Homo sapiens: one gene and its partners. The protein of the gene in region 3 purifies or fractionates together with the protein of the main gene of each other region. This does not show direct contact. Each region holds a gene or a part of one and is shown on either strand. Other genes may lie near its edges.

Evidence for each region. The genes of interacting proteins can lie anywhere in the genome.
Region 1: the proteins of CCDC68 (region 3) and NIN purify together in Homo sapiens (affinity purification with mass spectrometry; 3 studies listed by BioGRID and IntAct, with this or other methods). This does not show direct contact.
Region 2: the proteins of CCDC68 (region 3) and CENPF purify together in Homo sapiens (affinity purification with mass spectrometry; 3 studies listed by BioGRID and IntAct, with this or other methods). This does not show direct contact.
Region 4: the proteins of CCDC68 (region 3) and FBP1 purify together in Homo sapiens (affinity purification with mass spectrometry; 3 studies listed by BioGRID and IntAct, with this or other methods). This does not show direct contact.

What each region holds. Positions count from the first base shown.
Region 1 is NC_000014.9:50,824,156-50,828,602, forward strand, and holds part of NIN (ninein), read right to left. Parts: intron 1-4,447. UniProt on the Homo sapiens protein: Centrosomal protein required in the positioning and anchorage of the microtubule minus-end in epithelial cells. May also act as a centrosome maturation factor.
Region 2 is NC_000001.11:214,601,518-214,606,501, forward strand, and holds the start of CENPF (centromere protein F), read left to right. Parts: upstream 1-1,677; 5' UTR 1,678-1,804; intron 1,805-3,939; exon of another isoform or gene 3,940-4,562; intron 4,563-4,984. UniProt on the Homo sapiens protein: Required for kinetochore function and chromosome segregation in mitosis. Required for kinetochore localization of dynein, LIS1, NDE1 and NDEL1.
Region 3 is NC_000018.10:54,955,949-54,961,085, reverse strand, and holds the start of CCDC68 (coiled-coil domain-containing protein 68), read left to right. Parts: upstream 1-1,624; 5' UTR 1,625-1,750; exon of another isoform or gene 1,751-1,903; intron 1,904-3,037; exon of another isoform or gene 3,038-3,111; intron 3,112-5,137. UniProt on the Homo sapiens protein: Centriolar protein required for centriole subdistal appendage assembly and microtubule anchoring in interphase cells. Together with CCDC120, cooperate with subdistal appendage components ODF2, NIN and CEP170 for hierarchical subdistal appendage assembly.
Region 4 is NC_000009.12:94,636,212-94,641,323, reverse strand, and holds the start of FBP1 (fructose-1,6-bisphosphatase 1), read left to right. Parts: upstream 1-1,805; 5' UTR 1,806-2,013; coding exon 2,014-2,183; intron 2,184-5,112. UniProt on the Homo sapiens protein: Catalyzes the hydrolysis of fructose 1,6-bisphosphate to fructose 6-phosphate in the presence of divalent cations, acting as a rate-limiting enzyme in gluconeogenesis. Plays a role in regulating glucose sensing and insulin secretion of pancreatic beta-cells.

The sequences.
Region 1 (4,447 bases), on a different chromosome or scaffold from region 3:
GAATTCTAACACTTCCCTTTTTAAAAATTATTTTTAAGGGGCGGGGATTTGTCCATCTTAAACCAATGAAAGAGAGGAATAAAACACTGATGTACTGAGAAGCCCTGATCTTATCCACGGTGTCGAATTTGATATACTATCATGCCCCACTCTTTGGGAGGTCATTGGATTTTCACTAAATCAAACCTCTTTCATTTTATGGCAGCTTTCTTTTCTTTATCTCTTTATTTCATCTCCTTCCTTCTCAAAACACTGTGCTTGACTGAAGGGGAGACAAGCACCACCCCTGTGGAACAAATGCTCACGCTGAAACATCCAGGAGATGTTACGCATGGTGACAAGTTGTCAGTGCTCATCTGGCACAGAAGGCATTTTTACTGGTTGATATTATTTCCCAAATGTTCATCAGTAATTTCATGTGCAAGAATTTTTTTCTCCCCACTTGGCAGAAAGTTCTTTAATGGTAAGATCCACGCTCCTATTTCTTTTATATCTTCCCCCAAATGCATACTACAGTCAGTCTGTTCTTCAAGCCAGGGATTTGGTAAATATCATGGATTGACTTCCTGTATGGATCACTCCTTGAGAGGAAACGTACCCTAAATGAGGTCTACAGAAATGGGCATATGAAAATTTTGGAATGCCCATCTCATCCACCTACACACCTCCACTTCCCCCATCCCACCCTTTCTCAAAGGCATTTTCAGCCTCCTAAGCAAGAAGTAGAAAGCCAACACCAACTGCCAATCTGTAACATGCAGCGCTGTCTGAAGTTTAATTCAATAGGCTAGTAATTAAGTAAATGGATTCACAAACTTCGACTGCATTGTCTTGCTATGGGATGAAACTTTGGAGGAGAATCTATACTAAAACCTTTCTCAAGTCCCCTCGATTACAGCATGAGAATAACAATATCCATCTGGAAGGTTTGTTCTGAGAGTTAAATGTGGCAAGCAAGCGAGAGTGGCTAATTCCAGAGAAAGCTGATACAAGAGGGAATTTAAGATAACCAAAAGAATACCTGCAGCTACAAAGGAGTGGTAAACTGAAGAGGAGGTAACAAGTGAATTATCTACAGATCTACCTCCAAAGAAGCAAAGCAGGAGATGTGAAATGCTATAGAACAGACTGAGAATGGGCAGGGAGTGTACTATGTATATAAACATCATTATATAACTAAATGATAATGGCAGCAGGTAATGTTCAGAGCTTCCTCTATCTTTAAAAGCAGGTTATTGATAAATTTAATGTCAAATAAAAGCAGAAAGCTGCACTGTAACTGGGAATTACTTCTGAACATTTACTATGAGTCTGGCCTAAACTAAGTACTTTATGTATATCATCTCATTTAATCCTCCCAAATCTTAGAAGTGGATCTTCTCATTTTCCCACGCAAGATGTAGAAATTGGGGCTTGGCAAAATTAAGCCACTGTCCAAGGAGACAGCATTAATCTCCTTGAACAAAATGGGGGTGGAGCCAAGATTTGCACTCTAGTGTGACACTGAATTATATTATCCCTCAATCCTACACATGCACACAGAACACATGAATGAGACCTCTGAAATGATGCCATTGGCAAACCACTTATCTCCACCTTTATGTGTTAGCCAGTTGAACAGTACTAAGCAGTAGAAATCCCCACACAACACTCCATGGCCACAAACTTTTCCAAATTGGAATTGAGAAGCAGAGTTCCTTCCTTCCTACCTCCCTTGATCCATTTATTGAATAATTATAGCCTACAAGGCACCAGGGATATACAGATAGAATACACATTCCCTTTTTTTTCTAAAGCAGCTTTGGGATTTAGGGCATGAAAGAAAGAAATTCTTATATAAAAATGATCATGAAGTGTCCCATGTCTTCAATAATGGGCATTGCCCAGGAATTGGTAATTCGTAAATGACTTCCCCTGAATAAACACTTAAGTATGTATAATCTGTGCAATCCAGTGCTTTTCAGGGTCAGATCCTAACTGGTACCCACCAGAGGCAGGAGTCTTACTCAGAGATTAAGAAAGTTACATTTTGAGCGAGAAATTCTACTTCAAATTGCAAAGAAGAGCTCCAGTGTTACGAAGCCTGCCATAATAAACCTGGGCCTCTCCTCACCATCTACCTTTCCAGTCAAATTGTCAGAAGGCTTTATGACTCTTTCGGAATGAAAGAACCAGTATGGGCAATATTTTGGAGTTCTAACTGGGGATGGTTAAATAAGAAGCAGATGCACAGAACCATTAATCAAAACATTTACCACTCAATAACCACCCATAATGACAATTATTCTGAGCATTTTCCTTCCAAATAACTCAAAATAAGGCTGCCAAAATGCTGCCGACTCTGACAGTGGTGTTCATTACCCCAGCTGATGAAATCACAGTGCCAAATAGGACTGCAAACTAAATAGGTGGAGGTGTGGCTAGAATCATGAGTGGACATGTGGATTTATGAACTTTTCAGTGTTCAACCAAGGTACAGAAAGGAGCTTGTAACAATGACACCCCAGCTAAAGGGGACGTCTGTTCTGGGCCAGAGGGAGTGAAAAAGGGACAAAGTCTGGCGAGTGAAAAGGGGACAAAGTCTGGCAAGTGAAAACCAAGTAATAAATATGCACAATGCTAGAGCCCCTAGCCCAGGCCTTTTATTTCGCATCCAGATGGTTCAGCAGCTGAAGAGCTCTGCGGAATGTCTGCATGCCCCTCTCGGCTCAGCTGCTTTCCTTGAGAGGGCATCATAATAGATGCTTTTGGACCTGTGTGCAGACATAGCTGTTGGGGGTCCACAGACTAGGCAGTGACCACCAGTGACTCATTTACTTACTCTACAGCTGACGTGATGAACACCGACAAACCCCACTTGGGCAAAGCTCTCCATTTATGCCTTTAGCTTTCACCATTTGGCAAGTCGGAGCCTAATAACGCCAATGATCAAATTAAAGTGCTCTTTTTCTTCTTTCTTTTCTGCAAATACTTTAATTGGCTGCACAGATTTTCAGGCTCACCATATTGGACTACTTTCAGTATAAAAGGAAAGAGTGACAAGGATAAATTCAAGTTTAGTAAAAGCTCAATAGAAAAAGCAGTTGCAGCCATTTACGAGTTTATATAGGAGAATACTTCCGCCAAAAACCAGTGCTGCTTAGCAGCAAACTGATTACTGTCAGAATGCCTCCTCTCTGCTCAGTGTCTCACTTCTAGCTGGATACCAAAAGCACAACAATATCACTGTGAATGAAATCATGATACAAAAATATAACACGAAAGCTTAAATGCACAGGAAGAAAGTCACATTAAATACATTTGAAAAAATGGCTGGGAGCGGGGGCTCATGCCTGTAATCATAGCACTTTGGGAGGCTGAGGCAGGTGGATCACAAGGTCAGGAGATCGGGGCCATCCTGGCTAACACGTTGAAACCCTGTCTCTACTAAAAATACAAAAAAAAAAAAAAAAATAGCTAGGTGTGGTGGCGCACACCTGTAATCCCAGCTACTCGGGAGGCTGAGGCAGAAGTGTTGCTTGAACCTGGGAGGCAGAGGTTGCAGTGTGCCGAGATCATGCCATTGCACTCCAGCCCAGGAGAGAGCGAGAGACTCCGTATCAAAAAAAAAAAAAAAAAGAAAGAAAAAGAAAAATAACAACCTTTGTCAACTACACTATAATATTTAACTAAGGGAATCCTATCAGCGTTTATTCGAAAATGTAAGCAACCTTTATTATTTTACTATCCTGAAGGATGTAATAAACCCATGCTTTTGTTCAACCTAATAACTGGTAGATTACCCAATCAAGTAGTTAACTCAGGTTAGCTACAGGAAAAAAAAAACAAAAAACAAAAAACACAACAACAAAAAAACGCCATTAGCCTGGCACAATGTGCATTCAGTAACCTGTAATCAACTACTAAGTAAATTACAGAAGCAGAAAACAGAGCTGCATGTTTGTTACAAAAAAAAAAAAAAAGGAGAAAGCTTATAACAACTTCCACTTCTTAAGCCATATTGACTCACATTAATTTAGGATGCCTGAGGCTATGAGTATGGTACCCTGAGGTGTAAGTGAAGGTGATCTTCTCTTCTCACGTCTATGAACAATATTTTCCCAACTTTGTTTTTAAAGTGAGAATTAGGGTATAGATAGATGCTTTGTAATTTTTCCATCCAAAAGCTTGAATAAATGGTTAATTGCTGACTTAAATTGCAATAAAGAAGTGTCCTAATTTCAAACAAGGATGCTCACTTTCAGAATCTCATAATCTTTTCAAAATTCTATTTTATTCATAAATAGGATAAAAATCTTTTTGCAAGCTTCACTAAGTCTCTCCATAAGCCCCTGCCCAACAGATGCAAGTTCAATAGCTAGAATTCAAACCAGATAATTTATTGGCTTACAAATGAATTGGCATCTATAAAAATAAGCCTTCTAAAAAGGCTTCACGCTGTTTAAAT
Region 2 (4,984 bases), on a different chromosome or scaffold from region 3:
ATCTGTCTTTGGTTGGACGGGATCCTCCCCCTACAAAACAAACAAACCAACCGGGGGAAAAATAAAGGGAGGGGAAGGGAAGCATAAAATTAAAGTCAGAGAAATATCACAGGAGTTACTAGAATGGTATCCATCCTATTTCCCTTGTTCAAGAAATGAATGTATTTCTTTATTGTTCATTGTAGAAAAACGAAGCACAAGGCTTGACTATACAGTGGCCACTCAATAGATATCTGCTGAAGAACGAATGAATGAATAGTAAATGCAAATTTCTTATTCAAACCTTAAAAATATCCTCTATTATCTGTCTTTCTAGCTGTTTATTTTTCCTTAAACAGCCTATACATAGTTGAATAATTACTCTGGGAAGCAATGGAATTGTAATTTGTGTTGAAGCCAGACACAATTTGGTTCAAATTCTAAAACTACCAGACACTAGACTGATCATGGCAATGTCTGACAAAAGTTTTCCTCCCCTACCTGCTCTCTCCCCTCCCTTTGGGGATTCGAAGGTAGAAGATAGTAAGAACAAGGCCTTTCCCCAAATAGCAGTTTTATCTCCCAAGATGATCTGGATTTTAAATTACTATGTGCAAAGTTACTAGGGATGCAAAAATGAATTAAAACAGATTTTACTGTAAAGGAATTTTTGAGTCTGATGGGGGAGTCAGACGTAGACATAAATACAAGACAAGACACGGCGAAAATCCTAAACATGAAGTTTGCAAGTTCCAGGAAAGGTCTAGGAAATAATTATCTCTAAGGAGTGGGTGGGATTAGGGAGGTTTTATAAAAAAAGTGACACTTGAATTGGGTACTGCAGGAACAGTCTAATGAAAGGTAAAGTCAGGGGGCTGGAAAGTTTGGTACCTATTGAGGCAGACAACAGCATTAGAGATCTATTACTTTAACAATTAATTGTTTTGCTTCTGCCTTTAGAAGCTTATTTATAGTTTAATAGGGAAATAAAACGAGTATATAACATACATAGAAAACTAGTGGGCTTCACGAAAAGCATTACACCCCGTTTTGAGGATTCTTCTGAATTTTAAATTCTGATGCAGTGTCCTCCCCCCACGCCTTAATCCCGGAAAATAAGTGTTCAGAATCACGTCTTAGAAATATGAACCATAAAGGACAGCATTTAAGAGCGACATCCTGCATTGCGTAGATTCAATTTCAAATTACTGTACTTAGCTTCTATGAGCCTGTTAACTTTTTAATAAAATGAGGATAATACTTTCCTCAAAGAATTGTTAAGAACGACACCGGATAAAGAATGCATGACAAACACAGCACCTAGTATCTATGTCCTAAATTTACGTTTAATTAAGTAGATTGGTACGTGCAGTTTAAAAGAGGTTTCACCAGGCAGCACAGTTCCCCTGGCTGTAGGCGATAGACCACGCCTTCCTAATCAGCGGGCGCATTCCCTGACTTTTGCGGAAATAGCGGTCCAAAACCGCGTCTAGCATTAGCAAAAGCACGTGGTCTCCGTCTCCCCGCAACAACAAAAAAGAACAGTAAACTCCGGCGCAGGCACCTCCAGTAGAGGGCTTGTTTTTAAAATCCATCCGAAAGGGCCAATCAGACGCGGCAGTCTGAGTGCGCAGGCGCGGATTGGTCCGCAGCTACTTAGAGTGACCAATAGGCGTGGAGGTAAGTTTGGTTGAGACCAGAAGCGGGCGAATTGGGCACCGGTGGCGGCTGCGGGCAGTTTGAATTAGACTCTGGGCTCCAGCCCGCCGAAGCCGCGCCAGAACTGTACTCTCCGAGAGGTCGTTTTCCCGTCCCCGAGAGCAAGGTGAGCGTCCTGACTGGGTCCGGATCCTGGCCCTGGCGGCGGGCGGTAGGCGGCGGGCGGCGTGGGGGTGCCGCTGGCTTTTTGCCGGCGGGTACTGGGCGGGGAGGCCTCTGGGATCACTCTCCCGGCCCTGTAGGTGCCGGGGACCGCCCCCTCCCACCCGACCGAACTGGAGAATCCGCCCCGGGATGTGGTTCGTAGGGGTGTCTGCGCCCTTCTGCTCGGGTTCAAACTGGTCTCGGATTAGTGTCCCAGACCCTACTCGGTCACGGACTCACACTTTAGGGGATCATTTTCTTCCTCCGTAAAAGAATTGGAGATGACTAGGTATTTCCAAGCCGCCTTCCCAGTCCCGTAACCAACCTTATTGAAATTCAGGCCCTGGTCCTTTGTTTTATTGAGTAGATGTAAGCTTGAGTTTTGATCTGGTTGGCGACGTGGGGTGCCTATGGTTAGTTACGCGAGCATTTCTCTTTCCCCTCTCTTCTTCCTCCCGTCCACATTTTTTTTTTTCTTTTTTTAAATAGAGATAGGCCTCCCTATATTGCCTAGGCTGGTCTGGAACCCCTGGGCTCAAGGGATCCTCCCGCCTTGGCCTCTGTAAGTGCCAGGATTACAAGCATGAGCCACTACGCCCGGTCCTCCCTTCCACATTTATTTGAACGCGCCTGTGTGCCCGGCTCGGCTGTGTAATGAGGACCCAGAAATAAAAGGCATGGGTCGTGTCCTTGAGCCTGACCTAGAGGAGAAGGCAGGGTTATCATTCTCAGACCCAGCCTTGGTACAGTGCACGGGGACTCTGGCTTTTTGGAGGAGGTGGGGAATTCTGACAACGGGAAAGCAGTGGTGGAGGTGGGGCAGGAGGAGGTCACACAAGAGCTTCCTTGGGGACTAAGGGACTGGGTAGTTCGGGCATGAAGAGTGCCCTCCACGTATTTAAGAGATAAAGATACAGCATTTTCTGGAAAGGACAATAGTCCTGCAAGTCCTCCATGCAGGAACCTTCATCCAGGGCTTTTCTTCACTCCCCACCTCGATTCCCTGTTCCTCAAAAGTAAACTTCTGGGTTTATTTTTTTGTTCTTTTGCCCCAATGGCCCAATACAGGTGGCTGATAGCTGATCCCTTAATGGGCCAAAATCTGCTCTAATCACAGTTAGCTTGGTCTACATCTATATTGTTCTCTATCTTAGACTTTGGAATGGAAAAGCATTCAGCTTGCCAGTCTTCTTTATGTTTATTCCCCTCATTTTCTAATCATCTTTCTAAATTGCTCCTTTTTATATTCTGTTGGCTATAGCATCTTGATGTAATGATTTCAGTTGCTGGCTGAATTGTTTAGGGCAATTACAGTTGTGTGTCTCTGGGTACAGTTCTTTGACTCCTGACAAACTAGATTGGAATGGAGGATATTGAGACAGGGTCAGTTGTCCTTTGTTGGTTGAGAGGCATGTGACTCCTTTCAGTAGTTTTGGGATAAATGGGAGTGGAATACAAGATGCTGTGTTCCAAGAACTGAGAGCTAGAAAAAAAAACAAAACTGGTAGCAAAACACAGCTTTCCAGGGCTTTGATATCCAACTTATATGTTGTCTAAGACCTTTGCTTCTCCCTCTTAATTTTTTTTATTGTTCTTAGTACTTTCATGAACTGCTTATTGTTTTGATAAAAAGTTTCATTGATAAAATCGATTGAAAAAAACCATTAAAATGGCCGTTAACTTTATTTAGTAAAAAAACAAATTCTCAAACTCTTGCCTAAGTAACTGGAAAATGAATGATTTTTCTTTTTGTTTATGTTCTGAAGGCTAAAATAAAGGAAAGTTGCTATATTTTCTTCCAGCTGATTTCTATTTCCTAAGATGTGGCTGAGAAGGAGGTAGGCCACTTCACCCTTTGTACCATAGGCTGAAATATACAAGTGAAAAAGTGTTTTTAAAAAGTATGTAATAGCTAACATATATGGAAAGCTTACCAGGAAAGCTTACTGTTTCTAAGGCCTTAGGAAGTCACCATCATTATTATCCTCATTTTACAAACAAGGGAAACAAGGCATAGAGCAGCTAAATAACTTGCCCAAGGTCATACATCCGTAAGTGCCTGAGCTAGAAGAATCCGCTTTGTTTTTTTTTTTTTTTAAATTTTAAATCTTTAATTTCTGTTTTCACGTATTTTCTTCTTGCTTCCAAAAGGAAAGGAGTGCGTAGCTCTGTTGCCTGTACATCGTCCACAGCCCCTGGGTTGGAGCGGGGTCCCCTGGGCCGCCCGGGGGTCCACATGCAGCCCCTGGGGGGCCGGCGCGGGGTGAGGTCCGGGGGCTGCCTTATTGCTGAGGTCTGGCCGGTTGGTGCCGCCGCTAGGCGAGCTGGCTGGCAGCTCCTGGGAGATGAAGCGACGCAGGCCCTCCAGGTACTGGCTGTAGAGCTCGATGTCGTTGTGCCTGGTGCCCTCCACCCACAGCGGCTCCACCGCCTTGGGGCAGCGCTCGTAGAGCGCCAGCCCGTGCGAGAAGTCGATCACCTCGTCCTCCGTGCCGTGGATGATGAGCACGGGCGACGTGATCTTGGACACCTTCTCGATGTTAGGGAAGGCGTCGAAGCAGTAGGTCTTCTTGGTGTCGGGGAAGGCGACGCGCATGCCCGAGGTGAGCGGCGAATGCAGCACCACCGCGGCACACTCGTAGCGCGAGGCCAGGTCCACGGTGGGCACCGTGCCGATGCTCTGCCCGTACAGGATGATGCTGTCCGGGCTGATGCCGTACCTGGAGGCGCCGGAGCAGGGTCAGCCGCGGCCTCCGACGCGCGCGCACCCTTCCCGCCAGCGGGCGTCCCCGGGCCCAGCTCCGGATGCGACCCTCCAGTCTCCCCACTCAGCCAAGTCAGTGGGTCAGGCCCAGGCTCCACACCAGTCCCGAGGGCCACCCCCAGCCCTCAACACCGCGGCGGTGGGCGAAGCCAGCGGCCCCACCCCGTTCCCTGGCGCTGCCGTTCCCTGGCGTTTCCTAGCTAGGATCTGTAGGGATCCCGCCTACGGAGTGGCCCTGGGGCGGAGGTAGGGGAGGCCCTGGCGCCTCTCCTCCTGATCACCCCTAGGTGCACACTGGGAACTGTGTGCCCCCCACATCCTGAATGCTTCACGCCTTCCTGCCCGGGTTAGAAAGCCGTTCCTGGTGCACTGGCCAGG
Region 3 (5,137 bases):
GATTAGTTAACAAAAAAATTACCTAAGAACCATCAACTTTCACTTCTCCAATTGGGTCACAATCTACAAGTTAATCTGCTAGGAAAAAAAAAAAATAACATTCCTCTCTAACTGTGGTGGGAATCAGTAATCATAGGATTCCCAGGAAGATTCTGAAAAGCCCTTGGATATTGAAGGATTTGGGTTGCAGTTTTCTCAATCTGTTAGATGTTGAGGGGGGGCGGAGGAAATACACCTTTTTTTTTTCCCCACAATCCTAAAAGTTTATGAACTTTCAGAGAGACACAGGAGCCAACCTGAAAGAGTTCCCAGTGGTCAAAGCTGGAACCATTTGAGCAACAAAATTAATAATGTAGTATTGAATTCTAGCCCAAAGTATAAAATAAATATACATGGGTCCATACTGACATAACAAATACTGACATAAATGATTGAATAAACAAGAGAGATGGAACAAATCTTCCTTACAGAATCATTCTAAATAATAACATATAGATACTCCCTGCTCTGGGATGGAGTTTAATCTTGCCCTCATCTTGAGTGTCAGCTGAATTGAGTCATGCCATTCATGCCATTCAGAGTAGAGTGTATGGAAAGAGAAAAACAGCTTTGCAGTAGAGAAACCTGGCAGACACAACCTTAACTATGGGATCAAGGTCAAGTCACCAGTGATAAGTCACCTGGCCATCGTGCCATCGTCCCTGAGAGGATGCAGTGGGGAAGGCACTTCATCTCTGAGTCTTTCCTCCCCCCAGTCTCATCATGAGAAAAAAACAGTAGACAATACCCACATGAGTGGGTGTCGAGGTACCCCCACAAAACTATACCTTACCAGAATACTTCATCACAATACTTTACTAGAATTCTTTACAGCTGTCAAAGTCAAGAAAAGACAGAGAAACTGTCATGGATTAGAGGAGACAAAGGGCACAGGATGCTAAATGCAGTGTGGTATCCTGGCTGGGATCCTGAAAGGGAAAGGCGTTAGCCAAAAAGCTAGTGACAGCTACATCAAGTCTGGAGTAGTGTTAATAGTGGCAGATCAATGTTAATGTCTTTTAAAAAATATTTTTAGTAGAAATGAGGTCTCGCTATGTTGCCCAGGCTGGTCTCGAACTCCTGAGCTCAAGCGATCCTCCCGCCTGCCTTGGCCTCTCAAAATGCTGAGATTACCAAGGCGTGAGCCACCGCACCTGGCCCAATGTGAATTTCTTAGTTTTGACAAATGTGCCACAGTTATGGAAGCTGTAGGCATTAGGAGACACCGACTGAGGGGTATATAGACGACTCTCTCTACTATCTTTGCAACTTTTTTTAAGTTCCAAAAGAAAGTTTTTTAAAAAAACAACAAAATTGCACTTGTACTCCATAAATTTATACTAAAAACAATAAAATCAAAAATTATTTAAAAAACAAAAACAAAAGTTTATAAACTTAGGGTGCAAATAGAACCTTCTTGAAAAGCAGCGGCCGATCCCCTCCCCCCACCCGCCTGTACAGCACCCTAGCGAGGGGCGTGAGGGGCAGAGCCTGGCTCTCCAGCGCTGGGCGTACGCGTCCTGCCGCGACTCCTCCCCGGGGCCTCACCGGCGCCGGACTCTGCCCTGGGCGCGCCCCGCGGGGCGGAGCCAAGCCTGCGGGCGGTGGCGGCTGCACTCGCAGGGCCCTGGCAGCCGACCCTGGCCCCAAGGTCCGATCGCCCAGGGGAGGAGCAGCACCGGGACCCCGCGTCGGCTGGGCGCCCCACAAGGTAGGCGAGTCTGGCCACCTTCGGGCCCGGTCCCTGCGGCGCGCCCCCGCATCCCCTCCATGTGTGTGGGTGTCCAGGTGCCTTTCCAGCGGCTTCCCCAGTGGAGTTCCTGGCATCAAGGACATTTCCTGTAAAAGGGTCCTTGTTGAAGAGGTAATCCTCCCTGGAAACCTCGGTTCTGGGCTCGAATTTCCTGGGCGAGAAGTTTCTTCCCCATTGGGAAGAGCTGCTTTTCCGCAGAGAGGAACCCCTACTTAGTCCGGCGCACACCTGATTATTTATTTAGGTTGTTGTTATACAATCCGTTTGTCAGGGGTCCCCGCGATTTCTGCCTGCTAATTTCAGAGGCTATGGAGAAAAGTCCTGCGGTAAACGCCCTGACCTAGGAACTCCAGCGTGGTGGCTTTGACAGGTCACTGCGCTCGCATTTTTTAAAGAGCAGAGATGAATGAAGGTGGCTGTCTTCATTCATTTGTGCGGGCTTCTGCAGCCGCAGGTGTAGTAAAAAGAGCAGCCCATTGCTTGACCTTTTCCTTAATGTTGAGTAGCATCATGATATTTTAGATGTGGAAGTTACAGAGTGCTAGGCGGCTAGACAAAGGAACACTCTTATCTTACTGAAGGTTAGTACGGGACCGTGCAAGTGTAGTTTTTAGATTGGATGATAACATAGCTGTGAATTTTCAGCCTTTTTGGAAGTGAAGACAAAATTGAATATAAGGATCAGAACAAGCAACAAGCCCTGAACATAACTGAAGGTGTACCTGCTCCCCATTATATTCTGATTGTTTTATTTTAGGAATCAAAACCTCTTTTACTTTCTTGGTGTATATAGTTCGGATGAAGTGTCAGAATACAAAAAGGAATTATTCTGTGTTTGTGATAGGGAGGAGATAATCTGTTCTTTTGATTTTACCTAATGCCATTAAATATTCAGAGCTACTGAAGTCTGGTTTTCCTGATATGTGAGCTGGGCAGGAGTGTCAGGTACCCTGGCAGACACAATTGGTGCTGTTGTTATGCTTTTCCCCCGCTGCCCACTCTCTTCCCCACCCCACTCCCAATTTGAGAGGGAAGGCCCCTGACACAGAGGAATTTCTGCCCAAGGCAGGGAGTATCCCCGTGTGGTTCCTCAAATGTTTGCAGAAAGAATGAAAACAACTACACTTCTTGGGACCCAGGCCAACGTCATAAGGCCGACGTCATAAGAAGGTTCTTTCCTCTTGTTATTTACAAAATAAATTGATCCCTTGTCCTAACTAGAAAGAGACTTTTGAAATTAATACTGTTGCTATTTTGTGAATTACTGATAGGCATGTTATTTGTTAGCTTATTTGTTTACAGTATGCTCAACATTGAAGGTGAGTTGTAATCCAAATTTTGGCCAAAGCTAAAAAATGTAAGCTAGATTTAGACAAACCTGAAAAATGAGGTGTTTATTTGCTTGGAATAATGACTGAAAGGGGAAATAACTGAAGATTTTGATGGGAATGTAAAAGTCTTTTAAAATAGTAGTTTCTCATCTTTAGAACTGAGATATTTACATCAAAATTATATGGCTATTTATTGATTGAAAACATTTCATAATGGCAAAATTTTACCATGAATTTACTAACACGTTTAAATGAATGTCATTTACTAAGCACAAAAACAGCCATTTATATAGGTTTGGAAAATGAGAGAGAGAGAGAGAGAGAGAGAGAGAGAGTGTGTGTGTGTGTGTGTACATTGTTTTAGAAACTATTTGGTACATCTGTAAATTTGTGGGCCTATTCATGTATTCATTGAAACAATATTTATTGAGGACACTGTGTTCTGTGTGGGAGAACCAGATGGGAGGGGAAGTAGGGTCTGGGCCAAACACAGCCCTGTGTAAATCAGACACATTTCTATCCTCCTGGAATTTACTACATTGGAGTCCTCCAGGCCACCCCAAGTCAAGGCCATAGATTTACAGACCACATAAATGATCCATTCAATTTCGACAGTGACTAAAACTAGATTAGTTTCAAATCACATATTTCCTTTCACTGATTTAAAAAGTCAAGTCTAAAAATGATAGAGGAGCTTGCATGTTATTCTGCTCAGTGGTTTTCTCTTTTGTTTAGGTTGGGGAAGAACTTAGGAATCATGTGTTCCAGGCTTAATGTTATGAAATATTAACTTAAAATAGCTAAGTATCAATTTCATGCAAATTAAATAAAAACTAAACTTGTAGTATGGATGACAATAATCTAGAGACAAAAATTAATGAACAAAAAATTTAAAACTGAAAAACATCTATCCATTAAATTATATTTTTTCCTATAAATTAGAAAAATAAGACTACAGTTACATTCACCCCACCCCCAGAGGAAAACAGCATCTTTATTCAAGTTATTCTTACTTTTCCTTCTGTATTTTTTTTTAAAAAAGCTTTATTGGAGGTATAATTTACATACCATAAAATACATCCAAGTGTATAATTCAATGATTTTTGGTAAATTTACTGAATGGTGCAACCATTAGCACAATCCAATTTTAGATCACTTCATCATTCCCCAAATATCCCTGGGGCCTGTTTGCAATCACTCACCGTTCTTACCCCAGCCCCAGCAACCCCTAATCTATTTTGTCTGTTTAGATCTGCCTTTTCTGGACATTTCATACAGATGGAATCGTACAATATATAGTCTTTAGCATCTGGCTTTTTTCAGTTAGAATAGCTGTTGAGGTTTATTCAGGTTGTCACATGTAGCTGTAGTTGGTTCCTTTTTATTGCTTAACTAGGATTTATTCCATGCCATGGCTATGCCGCATTTTGTTCACCATTTGGTAGACCTTTCTGCAAATACTTTTGCATGGTAAAACAGATACATTGGTGCAGCTTCTATGGTAGCATAATGTGAGAATAACTGATATGAGCCAACCTCTTATTTGGTGCTTTGACTCTCTTCTATGATAATTTTAAATATGAATGCCAAGAGTTAAACATCCAGGTTCCTATTAAGCAGTGGTGTTTTCTGTGTGTAACTCTCCAACAAACCAATGTTAAGAACTTCTTACCTTGGCTGGGCACAGTGGCTCACACCTATAATCCCAGCATTTTGGGAGGCTGAGCTGGGCAGATCACGAGGTCAGGAATTCGAGACCAGCCTGACCAACATGGTGAAACCCCATCTCTACTAAAAATACAAAAATCACCTGGGCGTGGTGGCATGCGCCTGTAATTCCAGCTACTCGGGAGGCTGAGGCAGGAGAATCGCTTGAACCAGGGAGGCAGAGGTTGCAGTGAGCCAAGATTGCACCATTGCACTCCAGCCTGGGCAACAGAGCAAGACTCGTCTGAACTTCTAATTTTCCCCAGCAATTTGGGAGGCTGAGGCAGGTGGATCACCTGAGGTCAGG
Region 4 (5,112 bases), on a different chromosome or scaffold from region 3:
TGGGTCAGCCCGCCTTTACTTACCTTCTTCATCTGGCTTCCCGGATGTCACATCTCTTGGTTTTTGGTTGGTTTTTCCAGTTGGCTTTTCCAATTTATACCTGCAGCATGGATCTCTCCTCTGAACTCCAGATACATAAATCTGTCTATTTGACATTGCCTTGGATGTCTAGAAGGCATTTCAAACTTAGCAGGTCCCACACTTAGCTCCTAATTGTCAGTCCTGCCTCCAGCACACGCCCCTCTCGGTGTTCCCCATCGCAGTCGAGGACAACTGCATTCTTCTAGTTTCTCAGGCCTCAAACCTTAGAATCATCCGAGACTCCTGTCTCTCACATATCTCATCTGTCAACGAATCCCATCAGCTCTACCTTCAAAATATGTCCAGAATCCACCACCTCCACTGCTAACACCTGGCTCACTATCTCCTAGTAACCTGGAGGGCACTGTCTTCAGTCTGATCTTCACACAGTAGCCGCAGTATGAAGACACAGGGTAGACCATGCCTCTCTTCTTCTCCAAACTCTCCAGTGGGTTCCTCCTAGTCAAAGTCAAACCTCACTTGGCCCTCTAGACCTCACCTCTGCATCCTCCCGCTGGCCTTATCTCCTCCACCTCTGACCCTTGCTAGCTCTATTTCAGCTCCACCGGTCTCCTGGCCATTCCCTGAACCTGAAACATGGTCTCCTACCCCAGGGCCTGTGCACTGGCTCTCCCGGTGAGGAAACCGCTCTCCTTCCCATCTCCACCGGCGCGTTGCATCCTTCACCTCTTTGCTCACATATCCCTTTCTCAGAGAAGCTTTTACTGAGGCCTCTGCTCACCCTCTTCTCCCCTCCACATTCCGTGTCTTCCTTTTCTATTTCGTTTCTCTCTATGGTACTTATGGCTTATGTAACAAACTAATCTATTGTTTATATATTTATTTTTACTGTTTCTCTGTGAAAACGTACACTCGAAAAGGGCAGGAGTTTTGTCTGTTTGGATCAGGCTCCACCCCTGGAAGGTAGGACAGTGTTCAGCACAGCAGGTGCTCAATAGGTGTTGTTTCGTGAATCAGCACATCAATTGCAGCATTGTGGCTACCAGGGGGTCAGGATGCGGGCGGTGGAGCCCTCTGGCCTTTGTGTGGTAGCCGAGGACTCTGTGTCAGCGACCGTTTTCCGGGAAACTTCCGGGCGAGACTCACATCTTGGAAATTCAAATACTCAATAGCTCTCGAATTCTAGGAATCTTGAGAAGAGGCCTGGATTAAGGATTCAGACGTGGGCCCTCAGATGGGTGAGAAACGGGGACTCTGTGTCTCCTAGCGGGGACAGAAGGGCCAGGTGACAGGCCAGGCAGAGTGGACGGGGCTTGGGCAGGGGGCGGGGGCAGGCAGCCACACGGGGCAGGAGCTGCAGAGCTAAAGCCAGGCCATGTGGACTGGCTGCGGGTTTCGCTGCCTAGCTGGTGGCATTGAGCAAGTTACTTAACCTTTCTGAACTTCCGTTTTATGATTTTGGAGGAAACAGTCATAGCTTTCTCTCTGGCAGAGTCCGATGGCCCGAGTCCCGCTCCACAGTGCGGGTGGAGGGCACGGAGGGGTGTGTGTGGGGGGCGACAGCCCAGGAAGACTAGGGGGCGGCAGGGCGCGTGGGGGCGGGGGTTGGGAGACCGCAGGGAGGATCCCCGACCTTGTCTGAAGATCCAAGCAGGCGGAGCCGCGGTCTGGTCCGCGGGGTAGGCGGGGCGCAAGAGTGTTCCCGGGGGCGGGGGGCCGACCCGCGTCTAAAGGTTTCCGCGATTCACCCGCCGGCGCCTGGCCTGGCCCAGTTGCACCACGAGCGCTGCGGACACTCGGGGCGGCAGTCGGTCTGTCAGTCCTCCCGCCAGGTCCCGCGGCCCGCACCTGCCGCCCGCACCTGCAGCTCCGCACCTGCGGCCAGTGCCTACTGCCCTCTCTTGCCGCCCGCACCTGCAGCCCCGCACCTGCCGCTTGCACCTGCAGCCCCGCGCTCTACCCGGTTCAAGCATGGCTGACCAGGCGCCCTTCGACACGGACGTCAACACCCTGACCCGCTTCGTCATGGAGGAGGGCAGGAAGGCCCGCGGCACGGGCGAGTTGACCCAGCTGCTCAACTCGCTCTGCACAGCAGTCAAAGCCATCTCTTCGGCGGTGCGCAAGGCGGGCATCGCGCACCTGTGAGTCGGGCCTTGGGCGGTGGGCCCCGTCCTGTCTGTCTGCCTGGGGAGCCTGCCCGGCGGGCTGACGTTGGGCCCTCTGAGCCTCCTGCCGTCAGCCTCTGTCTGTCCGTCTGATGTCTGAGCGCCTCTCTCGCTCTCTGTCTGGTAGCCCCTCTCTCCAGAAGCTGGCTCAGCCTCACTCAAGTCCTCATCTCCTCCCTTGACCTTGGAGGGGCCCACCTGGGGGTCCGTCTCACAGGTGTACACCTGATTCCATCTTGCATTCCTCTTCTCTGCCCTGAGCAGCCTGCCTCGTACCCCTCTCAGCCGGCCAAGTGTGGGCACCTGGCCTGCCCGTCATACCCGCCCTAGCCTCAGACAGGAAAGTGCTAGCTCAGGTGCCTTCCTTCCCCATTTCTTCTTTGTCCTCCTTCACTCTTTCTGCAATTAGGGACCCAAGTCAGGTTTCTAATCCAGTTATCTCTGACCTGAAACAAGACCTGTTAGGAGCGAGTGTCCCCCCCGCCCCCCCCGCAAGCAGGCTGGGAGGTCTCCTGTGTGTCCAGAGCCTTTAGGAGCAGCAGGGCTTGTGTGCAAAGGAGCTCCCGTGGGCTGCCCCTTGCTGGGACAGTTGCCATGCTGTGCCAGAAACAGGAAACACCCAGGGCTTCAAAACCCCTATCGATTTGCAATGATGGTGTGTGCAGCCTCTGCCCAATTAGTGGAAAGCTCAAAAGTGGTTTGTAGAATGGTTCTGAATGCGCTATGGAGTGCATCTCGAACGTCACTGGGCACAGGAATCATTTGGGGATCTTGGTAAGATGTGTGCCCTCCTTCCATAGCTCTGGGACAGGTCCTGAGATTCTGCATTTCTAAGAAGTTCTCCTGTGGTGGGTGCTGCCCATCAGATACTGTTTGTCTACTCATCACATTGTGAGTAGCAAGGGGTCAAGTGGAGTGGAGACTCAAAGGACCCCTTCTTGTGAGGTTTTTTGTAAGTCACACAACATCCTTTCGTTTGTGTTGGTGTGCACAGGTATTTTCTTTTTCTTTTCTTTTTTTTTTTTTTTTTGAGATGGAATTTTGCTCTTGTTGCCCAGGCTGGAGTGCAATGGTGCGATCTTGGCTCACCGCAACCTCTGCCTCCCAGGTTCAAGCGATTCTCCTGCCTCAGTCTCCCGAGTAGCTGGGATTACAGGCATGTGCCACCATGCCCAGCTAATTTTGTAATTTTTTTTAGTAGAAACGGGGTTTCTCCATGTTGGTCAGGCTGGTCTCGAACTCCCGACCTCCGGTGATGCCTTGGCCTCCCAAAGTGCTGGGATTACAGGCATGAGCCGCCGTGCGCAGGTATTTTCTAGCTAACTGATCCACACTTTTAACTGAAGTGTAACTGGGTTTTCAGATTGTCCATACACTTTACTAACATTCCCCGCACTTATGCACACTATAAAAATGACACATGATGGGCTGGGCGCGTAGGCTCTAGCCTGTCATCCCAGCACTTTGGGAGGCCGAAACAGGTGGATTGCCTGAGGTCAGGAGTTCAAGACCAACCTGATCAACATGGTGAAACCCCGTCTCTACCAAAAATTAGCTGGGTGTGGTGGCAGGCGCCTGTAATCCCAGCTACTCGGGAGGCTGAGGAAGGAGAATTGCTTGAACCCAGGAGGCAGAGGTTGCAGTGAGCCGAGATCGCATCATTGCACTCCAGCCTGCGCGACAAGAGCGTGACTTTGTCTTAAAAAAAAAAAAAAAAGACGCATGATGCTCAGAGCTGACCTGAACAAATACAACCCTGCTACTTGGGTTTGGAATGCATTTCTCCATTCTTAAAAACTCTTCTCCGCCCCGCATCCTGCAATCTAGATTCCTTTTCTTACTGGCAGGCTGTCTGGCTTTGGTCCCACAGTATGGACTGGTGGAGGTAATTCATGTAAAGGAGTGGTATGATCACATTTATTTTTGAATATTAAGCAGACATGTTAAGGAAGGTGATGACTCCATTACTGTTGCCTCTGGCCCCTCTTAATAATACATTCCTAAGGATTCTTATTTTAGAAACATACCCAGGTGAAATCTTAAGCTTTAATTTACAGCTAGTATAGGTGGCTCACAGCTTTAACTGCCTTTGAGGACCAGGGATATATTTTAAAAAGAGGGCTTGTCGACTGGGTGTGGTGGCTCACACCTGTAATCCCAGCACTTTGGGAGGCTGAGACGGGTAGATCACTCAAAGTCCAGGTGTTTGAGACCAGCCTGGCCAACATGGTGAAACCCTGTCTCTACTAAAAACACAAAAATTAGCCAGGCATGGTGGCAGGCGCCTGTAATCCCAGCTACTTGGGAGGCTGAGGCAGGAGAATTGCTTGAACCCGGGAGGCGGAGGTTGCAGTGAGCCCAGATCGTGCCACTCTACTCCAGCCTGGCGACCGAGTAAGACTCTGTCTCAAAAAAAGAAAAAAAAGGGCTTGTCATGTCTGATATTGTTTAAAAAATGTGTCAGTACCTTTCACACCCCTAGAGAGACTGAGAAATGTAAGATGTGTTTTGAGGTGTCCCACTGTCTAAGTAACCTTAGACAGTGGGACCTTGGATAGTGAGATTTTGATGGTGGGGCCTGGATGAAGCATGTTAATTTTGGCTACGTAAGGTATGCGTTTTATTTATTTATTTATTTTGAGATAGAGTCGCACTCTGTTGCCCAGGCTGGAGTGCAGTGGTGTGATAATGGCTCACTGCAGCCTCAACCTCCCAGGCTGAATTGGTGCTCCCACCTCAGCCTCCCCTGTAGCTGGGACTACAGGCATGTGCCACCATGCCGGATAATTTTTGTGTTTTTGTAGAGATGGGGTTTTGTTATGTTGCCCAGGCTGGTCTCAAATTCCTGGGCTCAAGCGATCTGCCCACCTTGGCCTCCCAAAATGCTGGGATTACAGGTATGAGC